2 linked regions of the Homo sapiens genome follow. The protein of the gene in region 1 interacts with the protein of each later gene in a pairwise test. Each region holds a gene or a part of one and is shown on either strand. Other genes may lie near its edges. The genes, in order: TFF2 and FCRL4.

Region 1 (7,250 bases):
AATTTTTAGTTTCCATTTATCTACTGAGATTCCTTTTTGTTCCTTTATTATATTATGTTTTTCTTTCAATCTTTGAACATTTTATGCCATGTCTAAGTCTGTTTTTGTTCACTGATTTTTCTAATGATTATGGGCCATATTTCCTAGTTCTCTCCACACATCTAGTAACTTCTGATTTTCTGTTAGACGTTAGGGATGTTATGTTGTGTATTTAGGTTTTGCTGTCTTCATTAGTAAAGTGTTGAATGCTTTGCTCTCTCAGGTAGTGTTATCGGTTGAATTATTTCCCCCAAATTCATATATGAAGCCTTAAATTCCATTACCTAAGAATGTGACTACATTTGGAGACAGTGTCTTAAAAGGGGTAATCAGGTTAAAATGAGGCTCTTAGGGTGGGCCCTGGTTCAATTTGACTGGTGTCCTTATAAGAAAAGAGTCGCCAGAGATGTGCGTGCACAGAGGAAAGACCATGTGAGATATGGGGAAAAAAAGCCATCTGCAAGCAGAAAGAGGCCTCAGTAGAAACCAGATGTGCTGACACCCTATCTTGGACTTCTGGGCACCAGAATTGTGAGAAAGTACACTTCTGTTGGTTAAGCTACACAATGTGTAGTATTTTGTTACAGCAACCTGAGTGAACTAATACAAGCAGTTAATTTACTTGCAGGTTAACTTGATTCCTGCAAGACTTGTTTTAAAGTTTTGTTCGAATGGATTTTGAGTAGCTTTCCTCTAGAAAGATCAGCCTTCTTTTTACGGCATGGCCTTTATTGAATGCTTGAAGTGGTCAACACCTCTGGCTGCTCTGAGCTCAAATGCTTTCCAGCCCCACGAACCCTACACTAGTTGTTCAGTTTAGCCTCCCCAGTGATTGTTCTGTCCCCAGGGGCTACTTAGCCTGGCCTTGTGGGCACGAACAGCATAGTATTTGATGAAAAGCTCAAAGGACACACTTTTATATTTCTGGAGCTTCCTTCTCTTACCTTGATAACCCGCCTGCCTCAGAAGCTTCCAATTCTGACCTCTGTCTCCTCAGCCCGATGGGACTTCAGTGCTATTTGGGTTCCCCTCCCTGTGCTGTAGTCTGGAGAGCGTCTCCAGGAAACCAAGGCAGCCATGGGACTCCCCCTATTGTTTCCCTTCTCTCAGGGATCGCTGTCTGGCACTGCCTGCTGCTCAGCATCTGCAGACTGTTACTTATGTAGTTTTAGAGTTACTCATGGTGGGAGGCTAGCCTGGTACCAGTGACTCCATAGTCAAAAGCGGAAGTCCACATGGGTGATAGCTGAGGTGGTTCCCATTTGTTGACTTTCTATGTGAACTGATGGAAAGTATCATCCCCAAAGTGTGCAAAATGGAAGTGAGCAGGGGTGGAGAAGGATAAACAGAAAGAGGAGGGCGCCAGCCCTGAGTGCCTGGATGGCGCTGAGATCATGCGTTGAGAGTGGCAACAATTCAAGGTAGGTGTCGGCCATGCTAGGCAGATGGCATAGGCACAGAGACAGTGGGAAACAGCAGTGAGGAAGACGGTGGGTGAAGTGAGCACTGTGGAAATCAGGCTGGAGAAGCAGGAAGGAAGGATAGACAGGAGGGGGCTCACAGGGGAATAGGGGATTGGAGGGCTTTAGGATTCAGACAAAGGGAGAATGTTAGGAGCTTAGGACATCCTGGGCAGAAAGGACATTTGCATACCCTCTTTCAGAGGTGGAGCTCAAGTTCTGAGTGTGGTCATGGGAGGGTGGCAGAAGTGGCAGAAGTGGAGTGGAGATGGAAGTTCCTAGAGATGAGGAAAAATAAAATCTGAGCGACTGTGAATTTTGATGAAACATCGACCGCCATGTTGAAGATGGCTGGGATGTGGCCAAGTCTTAGCATGACAAGGAACACAGTGAACTCAGTGCTGAAATTCTTAACGAAAGGGACAGGCTGCACAAAGGTCGGCAGATGACAGCAGGGCAGGGACTCCGGACATGGCGCCCTTCCCAGCCTGCATCTCCAAGGAGGATGGTTTTTGCATGAGGGTGAAGACTTGGGGCTCAAAGTCAATGTCCAGCCCCCAGTCTGAGCCCATGTGATGGGGACGTGGCCACCAAGTACAGTTGTGGAGGTTGTGAACAGCTCCACTTTCAACTAGCGATGCCACTCTATTGCAGACGTCCCATCTCGTGTAATGGTTTCCCAACTCTGTGGGCACTCAGTGTCCCTGCGTGGGGGCCTGAGCAGGATTCCAGGGAAGCATGCCTATGACAACACAGGCTTCCGCCAGGGCCAGGAGAGTGAGAGAGGCTGAGAAGTGGTCTCTTTTGCATGGGTCAGGTGGTCGCAGCAGGAATCCTGAAGGGGCTGCAGTGAGCGGTGGGAAGTCGAGTTGATGGGGAGGAAGCAGAGAGGAGAGGTGGGTGGGAATATGAGAGAAAACAATGACTCAGTCACTTATATCATGATGGTGACTAAAGTGACAGGGATGTAGAACAAGGAAACTGACCTTGCCAGAGTTTTCATGGATCGAGTCCCTGTGGTTGCCCAGTGGTGAACAGTCAGCAGAGAGCCTGGAGGTACTTGACCCGGACCCAGAGGAGCCCTGGAGGATGGAGCCTGGAGGACGGGGGCCTGGAGAATGAGGGTCTGGAGGACGAGGGTCTGGAGGAACAGGGGCCTGGAGGACGAGGGTCTGGAGGAAGAGGGCCTGGAGGACAGGGGCCTGAAAGATGGGGGCCTGGAGGATGAGGGTCTGGAGGATGAGGGTCTGGAGGAGCAGGGGCCTGGAGGATGAGGGCCTGGAGGACAAGAGCCTGGAGGACAGGGGCCTGAAAGATGGGGGCCTGGAGGATGGGGCCTGGAGGATGGGGGCCTGGAGGACGGGGGCCTGGAGGATGATGGCCTGAAGGATGAAACCTGGAGGATGGAGCCTGGAGGATGGAGCCTGGAGGATGAGGGCCTAGAGGATGGGGGCCTGGAGGACAGGGGCCTAGAGGATGGAGCCCTGGAGAATGGGGGCCTGGAGGATGGAGCCTGGGGGACGAGGGCCTGGAGGATGGGGGCCTGGAGTATGGGGCCTGCTCTCCAGACCCTGAGGACAGCCCCGTGGTGGACCAAGGATTTTGGGTTTCCTGCGTCTCTGGGCCCCTGACTGCTCAACCATCAGAAACAGACTGGCAACCCCCTGTCATTTCCCTGGCGTGGGGAACTTCGGGTCCCCTCTGTCCTTCCCACCACACTTTTCCCTCTTTCTTTCCGGGTGTCTACTCTCTGGCTTCTGTCTTCTCTGTCAGGTCCACAGAATCCTTCTCCAGCACATCCTACCCCAGGAAGGCCATGGGCTGGGTCCCAGGTGCCATCTTTCAGAAGATGTAGAGCATTCCCATGGAACAAAAATAACCCATTTCAGGGGTTGGCTGAAAATGAACTTATTAAAACCTGCCTGTCACAGGCTACTCCGCTGACCCTGTCAGCCTCATCTCCATGGAGAGCAGCCCCTCCTGCTGAAGATGGGACAAAGGGCATCGTGCTGCGGTTGGGGAGGCTCTAACCACAGCCCTGGGAGCAGTCTCTTACCTCCTCTGAGATGCTTCCCTTCCTCAGGGAGGGGACTTTTCCATGCTATCTGCTGGCCTGTACATTTTCCCCAGTAAACTTGGCCCTAATATTTTCTAAATTCCTGTGGTCCCTGCCCACTCTATCAATAGAAATGCATAGCTTATCCCTTCCTGGGTGTGACCCTGTGTGTGCCCAGCCCCAGACCTGCACGTGGCCGGTTTTCCACGCTGGCAGCCTGGCATGACCCAACTCTCTGTCCAGGGCAGGAAGAGGTATCACCGAGCAGGGAGAGAGTCACCCTGGCCCGGAAGCCTCGCCTGCACAGGGCACAGCTGCCTCTTGCCTCCTCTTCGCCTCCACGGTGGAAGGGCTGGGGCCACGGGGCAGAGAAGAAAGGTTATCTCTGCTTGTTGGACAAACAGAGGGGAGATTATAAAACATACCCGGCAGTGGACACCATGCATTCTGCAAGCCACCCTGGGGTGCAGCTGAGCTAGACATGGGACGGCGAGACGCCCAGCTCCTGGCAGCGCTCCTCGTCCTGGGGCTATGTGCCCTGGCGGGGAGTGAGAAACCCTGTAAGTGAAGGAGAGGGTCTTTTTATGTGCTTTCTTTATTTCTCTTAAAGAAAAAAAAAAAGCACAACCATAAATTAACTTGAGAGGGGGAATGGCTATAAAGGCATCTGGCAATGTGTGTTGTTCACATGGGATTTGCCACTGCTCAGGAGGGTGGCTCCAAGAAGGGCCTCCCTCCTAGGGAAAGGCTGAGTGACGGCAGGTGTCAGCGGGCCCCGTGTCGGGCCAGGAGGGCATTCCCACCAAGGGTCCTTGGAGTCCCAGAGCACTCACCTCTCGCCTGGATCTTGGCCTTGGGTCCATCTGTTCACCCTCCTCTAGGAGGGTTTTGTTTTTGTTTTTTTCCGAGACAGGATCTGGCTTTGCCGCCCAGGCAGGAGTGCAGTGGTGTGATCTTGGCTCACTGCAACCTCTGCCTCCCAGGCTCAAGTGATCCTCCCACCTCAGCCGCCTGAGTAGCTGAAACCACAGTTGTGGACCATCATGCCCGGCCAATTTTTTTTTTTGTATTGTTTGTAGAGATGGGGTTTCGACATGTTGCCCAGGATGGTCTTGAACTCCTGAGCTCAAGCAATCTGCCCGCCTCGGCTTCCTAAAGTGCTGGGATTATAGGTATGAGCCACCATGCCTGGCTTTTTTTTTTTTTTCCTTTTAAACTAATATAACAATTTCAGCAAAGCCCTATCGGCTTCTCAGGAGGAAACCGCATTGCTTAAATATGGGCAAGATAAGACTTTGTGTTTCTCTATGTGGCAACAAGACAGTAGAGGCATCCCCTAGAACCTCTGAGAGAAGGAGCAGTGTGGTCTGGGGTACCAGGGTGGGGCCGACTGAGGGTCTTTCCACAGCCCCCTGCCAGTGCTCCAGGCTGAGCCCCCATAACAGGACGAACTGCGGCTTCCCTGGAATCACCAGTGACCAGTGTTTTGACAATGGATGCTGTTTCGACTCCAGTGTCACTGGGGTCCCCTGGTGTTTCCACCCCCTCCCAAAGCAAGGTAATCTTCCAGGGAATCTTCCTGGGCCAGCAGCTGGCAACCCAGGACCCAGCTTCACAGGCGGAGCCCAGAGCAGGGGCCGGAGGAGGCCCAGTTGCTAGTCTAGGGTTAGCCTGGGTGGGTTAGTCTCGAGCTAGCCCCGGTTGGTTAGTCTGGGGCTAGCCCAGGTTGGTTAGTCTAGAGCTAGCCCAGGTTGGTTAGTCTGGGGCTAGCCCAGGTTGGTTAGTCTGGGGCTAGCCCAGGTTGGTTAGTCTAGGGCTAGTGTAGGCTAGTTAGTCTAAGGCTAGCCCAGGTTGGTTAGTTTGGAGCTAGCGCAGGTTGGTTAGTCTGGGGCTAGTAGCCCAGGTTGGTTAGCCTGGAGCTAGCCCAGGTTGGTTAGTCTAGGGCTAGCGTAGGCTGGTTAGTCTGGGGCTAGCCCAGGTTGGTTAGTCTGGAGCTAGCCCAGGTTGGTTAGTCTGGGGCTAGTAGCCCAGGTTGGTTAGTCTGGGGCTAGCCCAGGTTGGTTAGTCTAGGGCTAGTGTAGGCTAGTTAGTCTAGGGCTAGCCCAGGTTAGTTAGTTTGGAGCTAGCACAGGTTGATTAGTCTGGGGCTAGTAGCCTAGGTTGGTTAGTCTGGAGCTAGCCCAAGTTGGTTAGTCTAGGGCTAGCATAGGCTGGTTAGTCTGGGGCTAGTAGCCTAGGTTTGTTAGTCTGGAGCTAGCCCAGGTTGGTTAGTCTAGGGCTAGCGTAGGCTGGTTAGTCTAGGGCTAGCCCAGGTTGGTTAATCGGAGCTAGCCCAGGTTGGTTAGTCTGGAGCTAGCCCAGGTTGGTTAGTCTGAGGCTAGTAGCCCAGGTTGGTTAGTCTGGGGCTAGCCCAGGTTTGTTAGTCTGGAGCTAGCCCAGGTTGTTTAGTCTGGAGCTAGCCCAGGTTGGTTAGTCTGGGACTAGCCTGGACTGCTAGTCTAGAGGTAGCCTAGAGGACTGCTAGTCTAGAGGTAGTCTAGGGCTAGCCCAGGTTGGTTAGTCTGGGGCTAGCCCATGTTGGTTAGTCTTAGACTAGCCTGGACTGCTAGTCTAGAGGTAGCCCAGGTTGTTTAGTCTGGTACTAGCCTGGACTGTTAGTCTAGAGGTAGCCCAGGTTGGTTAGGTTGGTTAGTCTGGGACTAGTCTGGACTGTTAGTCTAGAGGTAGCCCAGGTTGGTTAGTCTGGGACTAGCCTGGACTGTTAGTCTAGAGGTAGCCCAGATTGGTTAGTCTGGGACTAGTCTGGACTGCTAGTCTAGAGGTAGCCCAGGTTGGTTAGCCTGGGGCCAGCCTGGACTGTTAGTCTAGAGGTAACCCAGGTCAGCCAACAGTGAGATGAAAATTTCCCACCTACCCTGTTTCTACACTGTTAGTTCTTTCAACAGACATGTGTGTGTGGAGCCATCAGTTTTACTTTAGTTGAGAAAAAAATATATATATATATAGTAGGTCTCCTCTAGTTTTTGAAGTGTGACTTCTGAAGAAGCTTCCATGGGGAAATGAAGGTATTTAATAGGACAGCAGTAACATAAGGGCTGACAGCCCTCAAATGTTAGGGAAGGAAGTGAAGCCTTCTAGGGTTCTTTGGGAGTGAGTTTTATGTTAGTGCACGGGATCAGGACCCAAGTTGTAACGCCGACGAGTGCTCAAAGGAAGGTTGTGTGTGTGTCGTGCACCTGTGTGCGTGGAACCAGGCACGTCCTCTGGAGAAGGAGGATTCATCCCCAAGATTGTTGCTGGGAGGCTTGCTGGGCCCCGCAGGGAAACCAGGCAGATGGTGGATTGTTCACGAGCGCCCACTGAATGGCAGTGTCTTTGGGAATCAATACCATGTCCAAACGCTTTCCATCTTACCAAGGTGCCCACAAACCTTTTCTCATCTTGGCCCGGGGGACCACCCCATTTACTGAGAACACTGAGTCCCGAGAGGCAAAATGATTTCCCCAAGGCGGGGGACTCCAGAGCTTCTGACTGTGACCACCCCACATGGGCCCCACCTTCGCGGAGGACAGGCCAGCCAAGCGTCGCTGGGGCCGACACTTCCACAGTCCCCGGGGGAGGCGGTCCCAGGGGCCGACACTTCCACAGTCCCCGGGGGAGGCCGTCCCGGGGGATGCTGCCCCAGGCAGCACCTC
Region 2 (8,157 bases), on another chromosome or scaffold:
GCCGAGGCGGGCGGATCACGAGGTCAGGAGATCGAGATCATCCTGGCTAACACAGGTGAAACCCCGTCTCTACTAAAAATATAAAAAATTAGCTGGACGTAGTGGCGGGCGCCTGTAGTCCCCACTACTCGGGAGGCTGAGGCAGGAGAATGGCGGGAACCCGGGAGGCGGAGCTTACAGTGAGCGGAGGTTGCGCCACTGAGCTCCAGCCTGGGCGACAGAGCTAGACTCTGTCTCAAAAAAAAAAAAGTTATAAATTAATCTAATAAGCTAATAAGATGTGTTTTATTCTCCTACTTTGACAAATATACCTTCATAATGACCTAGAAGTCTGGGTTCAAATATAACATTTTAAGATAATGGGAATTTTATACTAGAACAAGGTATGACAAGGAAAGCAGGCTCTGGTCTCCTGTTTCAAGCTTACAGCTTCCTACTTTTATTCCTGCTCGCAGCTCCATCCCATAGTACAATACATTGGAACGAGCCAGCCCGCACATCCAAGCTTCTGACACATCCCTCAAGCAGCACTGCCTTGGCCAACCCTCAGGAAAAACTGACCAAATATAGCTAAATGTTAATAACTGATAACTCTCAGTGAAGAGCAGGTAAGTATTTATTGTACTATTCTTGCCATTTTTTTGAAAGGTTTAAAATTTTTTGAAATAAAAATATTGGGGAAATGAAAGTTTTCTTGTTAACGTCTCCAAGTAACAAAATGGATTTGCCTTCAGCTACATAGCTTGTAAGTGATGAAGCAAAACCATAGCCAGGCCTTAGAGTTCAAATCTGGTGTCCATTTCACACCCTCTACTACATAACTGTGGATCTGTGAATCTGGAATAGAGGGCACTAACAACCTGCGATTCTGTTCTCACTTTGGACAAGTTTTTGAGCAAAAAGATCTGTATGTTCATGAAGATAGAAGAGTCTCGACTTAGAACAAGAAATCATCTCGGAAACGTCTCTAAAACAAAAGGAGATTATATTTTACCACTGAAGGCTAGAAATATTATTATCTGTAGTCATGGAAAATAAAATGCGGCTTCTAGATGGCACCAGCCTACAAATAAATGTAATTGAGCTTCTTCACTGCCTTTTCTTTGAAGTTCAAAGTTGATTACTCCAAGCGGCTGTTCCTCCATTACTAACAAATGGCTATAGAAATCATTACGTATACAGCCACTGATTTGGGAGAAGAGTCTTTTAATAGCAAGAACAACAAATTTATCTTTCCAGTATTTTTCCCACCCATAAAGCACTGACAAGACCACAGACTCCCTGTCACATAGTTAAAAATGTATGATTCTCCCGTAGTAGTAAAGACCATACTCAGCACTCAGATCTTGGTTTCTAAATATCAGTCTCTACTGAAAGGAATTGGGGCTCCTTGAAGAAGTGGCTGATTCTAGAGTTGGGGCAGGAAAATGTAAGATGAGCCAGGAGCATCTCGTAGTGCCAGACAGTACAGAAATGTTCCAACAAGGAAAATGATGAGAGTTTCTCAAAGGCACAAAGAAGAAGCTGACCTGAAAGAGCTCCCAATCACCAAAGCTGGATCAATTTGAGCAACAAAATATATAAAGCATTATATTGTTACCAAAGTTTAAAGTAAATATACAAATCTATAGTGATATAAATAAATGATTGAATGGATGAATACATGAATAAGTAAATAAGAACAAGGAGACAAATCCCCCTACCTCACCTCTCACCCTGACTGTGGGCTGGACTTGCTCCCAAACGAAAGAATATAGAAAAAGACAAACAGTAATTTTACATCGAAGAAACCTGGCAAACACTACCTTAACCAAGTGATCACAATTTACATTACCAGTGATAAGTCATGTTGAGATTCCATACCCCCAATGTGATGAGAAGGACACTCTACCGCTGTAGTATTCTTTGTGAAAACTCATAACCCCAGTTTAATTATGACCAAAACGTCAGACAAACCCAGATTGAAAGACGCCGCAAACTACCTAGCCAGTACTCCTCAAAACTGTCAAGGTCATGAAAAACAAGGAAACACTGAGAAACTCACAGATGGAGAAGAGACGTCTGTGAGCAAAGATAGCTAAATGTAATGTAGTATCTTAGAGGGGATACTAGAAGAGGAAAAAGGTGTCAATGGAAAACTGAAACAAGCTGGATAAAGCCTGTAATTAATAGTAATGTAGAGACGGAGCAAAGATAACTAAATGTAATGTAGTATCTTAGAAGGGATACTAGAAGAGGAAAAAGGTATCAATGGAAAAACTGAAAAAAGCTGGATAAAGCCTGTAATTAATAGTAATGTAGAGACGGAGCAAAGATAACTAAATGTAATGTAGTATCTTAGAAGGGATACTAGAAGAGGAAAAAGGTATCAATGGAAAAACTGAAAAAAGCTGGATAAAGCCTGTAATTAATAGTAATGTAGCAATCTTGGTTTCTTAGTTTTGATAAATGCACCCCCATGATGTGAAATGATAACGGTAGGGGAAATTGAAACAGGTGAGGGCTTCCTATATGGGAACTCTTTGTATTATCCTTACTATTTTATATAAATCTAGAATTACCCCAAAATGAAAATTTATTTTTTAAACTGTAAAGGTTTAAATGTTTTTCAAAAAAAAATTAGAAAAGTTTAAAAATTTCAGTTTCTTACATTCTCATTGAAAACAATTATTTTTGTCCTTTGTTAATATAAAATCTAAAAGTTCCTGGTTAGTCAAGCAATTGCTTAATAAATCATGGTATATGTACTTCCTGGCTGATGTTTCAAAGTACTAACCACACTTCTGGCACCAATAACTAAAATATTTCTGTCAGTGACTTAAATACCACAACAAAAATAGTACTTGACTGACGTAAACTTAAACATTTACACAGTAGTTGTAAATAAATATGATTTTTGTGTTTGGACATCTTGTATAACATCATAAATGTGAAATTTTATTTTGCTAATTGAAATCTATTCATTCAGCAAAACTTATGGTAGAAACAAGAAAACAGGCAATATGATTTCAACTTCCCTCAATCCTTAGTCAGTCAATAAATATTGGAGTTCTAAACTCATGCTAAATACTATTTTCCAGTGTTATAAGGAATACAAAAATGTTGGTAGGATATTATGTCAATTATAAAGTGCTTTTTAGTTCATTATACTTGTTACTTCTAGTATTACAGAATAGTTCTCAGCATAGGGACTAAGCTGAGAGTTCTATGTCATTAATGTATTCATACAAACATCAATAACAACATCCACTTCAGCTGGACATTATTTTTATCTCCTTTTTACCAGTGTGAAAGAGGCTAAGTACTTGACCAGAGTCACCCAACTAGCAAGAGGTGAAGTCAAGATTTCATCCAGATGTGTGGGATTCTGCAGATCAGGTTCTTGACTGCCATTTTATACCCTTGCTCCTCCTGGGACAAATGAAGGCAGCTGAAAGATGACAGCACGGTCACACGGCAAGGAGACAAAGGACCCATGTGCCGCCTTGACAGCTCTATGTCTTTATGGTTCCTTGTGTCTATGTCTACTCTGGCCCTTACCACATTGACTTTTTTAAAGTCTTTAAGAGAGATGCACTTTATTCACCTTTTTATTCTTCTAAGGCCATGGACATTGTCTAAAATATAGTTGATGTTCAATACAAACCCTAGTTAGAAAATAAATTATTACAGATATATAGAAAAACATTATATTAGAAAAATACAGACCACTCTTAATCCATCCTATGTCTATTATCTATTCACAGATATCTTGATGTGATGGTGATGGTCACGATAACTGCCTTCCATCTTAGTGCATGCTCATCTCTCAGTCCTAGAATGATATTCTTTCAGCTTGGATGTTACTTCCTCAGGGAAGCCTCTTATGCATCCCCAGAACTGGGTCAGATTTCCCTCTTAGTGGACTCTCAGAAATTACATACAATTCACTTCTATGTAATTTCCTGTTGACTTGCTGTCTTCTCCACCAGAATGAAAGCTTTCCAAGTCTTGATTAACACTGTACTTCCAGCACCTGGCACCATACCTGAAGCACCATGGTGTTTCTTTTTTTTTGCCATTAACATTTTATATATATATATATATATATATATATATATATATATATATATACACATACATATACACAAGATAATAGCATAAAAAAGTTTTAAAGAGTTATACATACCAAAATATTATACGTACCAAAAAACGTCACTACGGATTTTTCCATTTTTTTCTTAATTTTTTTTTTAAGTTCTGGGATACATGAGCAGAGTGTGCAGGTTTGTTATGGGTAGGGAGAGCATTAGGTGTTTCTCAAAACACCAAACAGCATGTTGCCCAGTGTGAAAGAATCCAAATGGCAAAAATCAAAATTTAATAGAATTATTTAAATACCCACTCTGACTTCCTGACGTGAATCGCTTCTCAAGGCTAAAGCCATCATATTTTCAGAACTCTCTAGCCTCTTGTCTTTCAAGGAAATCACAACTTCTTCTCTCTGCCACCAGATACCAGGCATATGTATTTCAATCAATATATATTTGCCAAGACATTCCTGTAGCAAATTTTGGATTCTAGGACATTAAGTAAAAATGTTATGGCCTATTATCTAGGAAGAGCATGATGGGGCTATAATTTACTCCTCAGCTTGCCTTCTACTCAGATCAAAAGTTGTGGTTTCCCCCTGGACTGATGAGTCAGGATATTTTCATATATATCAGACAAGGTGAGAGTTGTCTTGTGATTGAGATGTTTCATCAGGTCTACAGACGGCCTGCTGGAGGTGTTCCAGTAGAGGTATCAGCGGTCAGAGGAGGCCTTTTCTGTGTTGAATGAGAAATTCTTCATCTCTGGGGATATTCAGGGACATCCTTAGATTATGTGGATTTCAATAGGCCTGCAATCTCACCTCATCTCTAGTAGCAGAGAGAATAGGTTGTGATTTCCTTGAAAGACAGAGCCTAGAGAGTTCTGAAACTAGAGTAGCTTTAGCCTTGAGAAGTGATTCACCCCAGGATGTCACAGCAGTACTTAATTCTATTAAATTTTGATTTTTGTGGTCTGGATTCTCTCACACTGGTCCACATTGCTGTTTGGTGTTTTCAGAAAGATTCCTCTACTTCCCCCTTTCACTTCATTATCTCAATCAGCTTTATGCAGAGAAGAAGCTTACTGAGCTCACTGCTGGTGCTGGTGTAGGCAAGTGCTGCTTTGGCAATCTGGGCTGACCTGGCTTGTCTCCTCAGAACTCCTTCTCCAATCCTGGAGCAGGCTTCCATGCTGCTGTGGGCGTCCTTGCTGGCCTTTGGTAAGTGATGGGGAGGAGACCTTTGCTTGCTGCAAAGCTGAGCCTCACCATGAGCAAAAGCCCTCTTTTCTGCTGCTGCAATCATGGATTTTTACTCCCATTTTAGAACAGCAGAAAATGAACAAAAAGGAAAGATAATGATTTACTGGTAGAAGGGGAAAATGATAATAATTGATTTCCAAAGATGTATTTCTCATCTATTTTTGCTATGAATTGCCTATGGAAAATCATTTTACCCCCAAATGGACTTATTTTGTTTATGCAAAAAGAAACCTATGGCTAGGTTCAGTCCCTACGTCACAGAGCATGAGGACCCAGAGGAAAAGATGGACTGAGTTATTTGTGAAGGATAAAGTCCTGATTGTGAACTCAGGTAGAAAGGATCACCTGCTGAGAATAGTTATTTCCTTCTCTGTATTCTAAGTTCAAACCTGTTCTGATGTTTGCAAAGAGCATGAGAAGAGAAGAGATAAGATGATTTCCCTTTGATTTTTTTCTTCCTGCTTTTGTACCACTTGTCAGTGTTTGTCCAAATGAGGCACGGATTTCCTAGTTGCTCAAACTAGGGAATTAAAGAACAGTCAGTCTTTTGTTCATTAAATATTTATTAAGCGTATTTGTCTAGTTCCCACCTGATCCCCAGACCCCAACTAAGGGAAGACCTATTAGTGTGATTGGCACATGATAGGAACTAAGGAGTGAGTGGATGGGTATACTTGGCATGCCACACTGCTGGGCACCACAGAGGATGCAGAGACCTGAAGGACACAGATTCTGCCCTCAAGAGGTGACATTCTCAATAGAACCTCAACGTACACATGCAAGAACATCTGACTCGACAATATGAGAAAAATATTACACAAATAGTTACAGGATAATGTGTGAGGATGTCAGTTAATTTGTGCTAAGCCCTGGCTACATCCCACTTTTCTAAGGGCACCCCATGTATAAATGTATCCAATTCTCTAACATTTGATCAGGTGGAACTTTTATAACTCCCATTTACAAATGAGGAAATGAAGGCACAAAGATGTTGGTCTTGTCCCTGAGGTTTATGCAGCTAGTACAGTGGCAGAGTCAGGATTCGAACCCATAATCTAACTTTGGAAACTAGGCTTTTAACTACTACCCTCTACTGTCTGTCTCATTTTGAGTTCCAAATTAGCTATGATAATAAGTGTTCTGAGTCAAGAGAAGAGGAATCAGCAGCAGCCCCATACTAAAAAATTAATGACAGCAGCCATTAATTGAAACCTTACTGATCTAACTCATTACAGTATTACTATGAGGTCGCTTTCATGAGCCTCATTTTTCAAATGAGAAAACTGAGACTTGAAAGTTCATGTGGTTTGCCCTGGGTCATACAGCTAAAATTCAAACCAGACTGTCTGAGTCCACAGCCTGAGCGTCTGGCCACTGTGTTTCCCCGCTTCCCTGGGATGGATGGAATGGAACGTGTTTCTCTTCCTCTTGGTTGGAAGTAGCATATGAGTGTATGGGCTCTCAGGGTGAATAGTTCGGGACTCTTCGCCTACGCTGATGGCTGGCTCTTTACTCTCTTTCAGCTCCAGTCTGTGGACAATCTGGTAAGTCCTTATTTTCTTTGCTCCTTTATGTCTCTAGATACCCTAATAACTATATTTTATCTCAAATACTTACAAGAGTCCCTGTTGTCCATTTCATCCTTTTCCTGAGTGCTGCAGGGATGTAGAGACATCAGCTCGTGTGGTGACTCTGACCCTAAGAACCAGGCTATTTGGGGGTGACTCTCTTAAACCAAAACTGCCATTGTGCTGGCTAAACATGGCAGGGCCTGGGATATGTGTCACAGCGTCCACAGGAAGAGGAGCTGTCACCCCGCCTGATGTGGGATTCTAGCCAAGCCTGATGGAATGCATAGCATCCCAAGAGGAAAAGGGTAGAAATAAGCCAATACTTCAGAGGGGGAGGCTGGGGCTCCAGCAGCTTTTCCACTAACCATGTGTAACAAATTTATCCCCAACTTCTGCATCCCATGGAGACACACTTCTCTGTTAATAGCTCAAATTATGATGACTCTGAGTCTCCATCTATCCTACTGGTCAGCAAAAAGTCCCATCCTCTATAGGCAGCTGCCTCACAGGTGTTTTGGCCATTCCTATAGAGCACCCTAGGAGCTGCTGGAGCCAGCAAGGGCCTTGGCCCCCTTGAGGTGCACTGTCTCTTGCAGCTCCTAACTCTGCTGTTCTTCCCCTCCTCGGTGCCTTGGACACAGACTATTTCCCACACACCCTTCCTGAGACAAGATTATAACTTGGCAGACTTTGCTAATGGTTCTAGAATGGGGAAATGAAATACAAAAAGTGCCTTGAATTAACTGCAGCTAGGGATGTGGTTAACCTCAGAGCCCATCAACTCAGTCTCAAACACACGAAGGCCATGAAAAGTTATGTCCCTTCCTGGCCATAGGGCCACCTGCACATAGCAGGGGCAGCTTCCTCAGAGCAAAGAAGAGTCTAGTTGCATACATCAAAGGAAATCAACTCTCCTTCCCTCCAGTAGAAGACCTATTGCCTAAGTCCCAATGGCCCTGCATCCAGGTGCTTCCCAGGAATATAGCTGGTAGGGTTTTCTATTCTCTTCAGCAGAAACACAGCCCCATTCCCACTGATGACATAGAGTATTCTGTCCAAACCTTTAAAGACAGAATTTTCTTTTTAAAAAGTGTCTGCAGAGGCTGGGCACAGTGGCTCATGCCTGTAATCCCAGCACTTCGGGAGGCTGAGGTGGGTGGATCACTTGACGTCAGGAGCTCAAGACCAGCCTGGACAACATGGTGAAACCTCATCTCTACTGAAAATACAAAAAATTAGCCGGTTGTGGTG

The links.
Region 2: the proteins of TFF2 (region 1) and FCRL4 interact in binary tests that used the Homo sapiens proteins (3 or more experiments, as listed by UniProt).

Annotation. Positions count from the first base shown.
Region 1 is NC_000021.9:42,347,744-42,354,993, reverse strand, and holds the start of TFF2 (trefoil factor 2 precursor), read left to right. Parts: upstream 1-3,999; 5' UTR 4,000-4,036; coding exon 4,037-4,115; intron 4,116-4,963; coding exon 4,964-5,113; intron 5,114-7,250. UniProt on the Homo sapiens protein: Inhibits gastrointestinal motility and gastric acid secretion. Could function as a structural component of gastric mucus, possibly by stabilizing glycoproteins in the mucus gel through interactions with carbohydrate side chains.
Region 2 is NC_000001.11:157,595,050-157,603,206, reverse strand, and holds the start of FCRL4 (Fc receptor-like protein 4 precursor), read left to right. Parts: upstream 1-5,121; 5' UTR 5,122-5,262; coding exon 5,263-5,293; intron 5,294-6,858; coding exon 6,859-6,879; intron 6,880-8,157. UniProt on the Homo sapiens protein: May function as an inhibitor of the B-cell receptor signaling. May function in the B-cell-mediated immune response.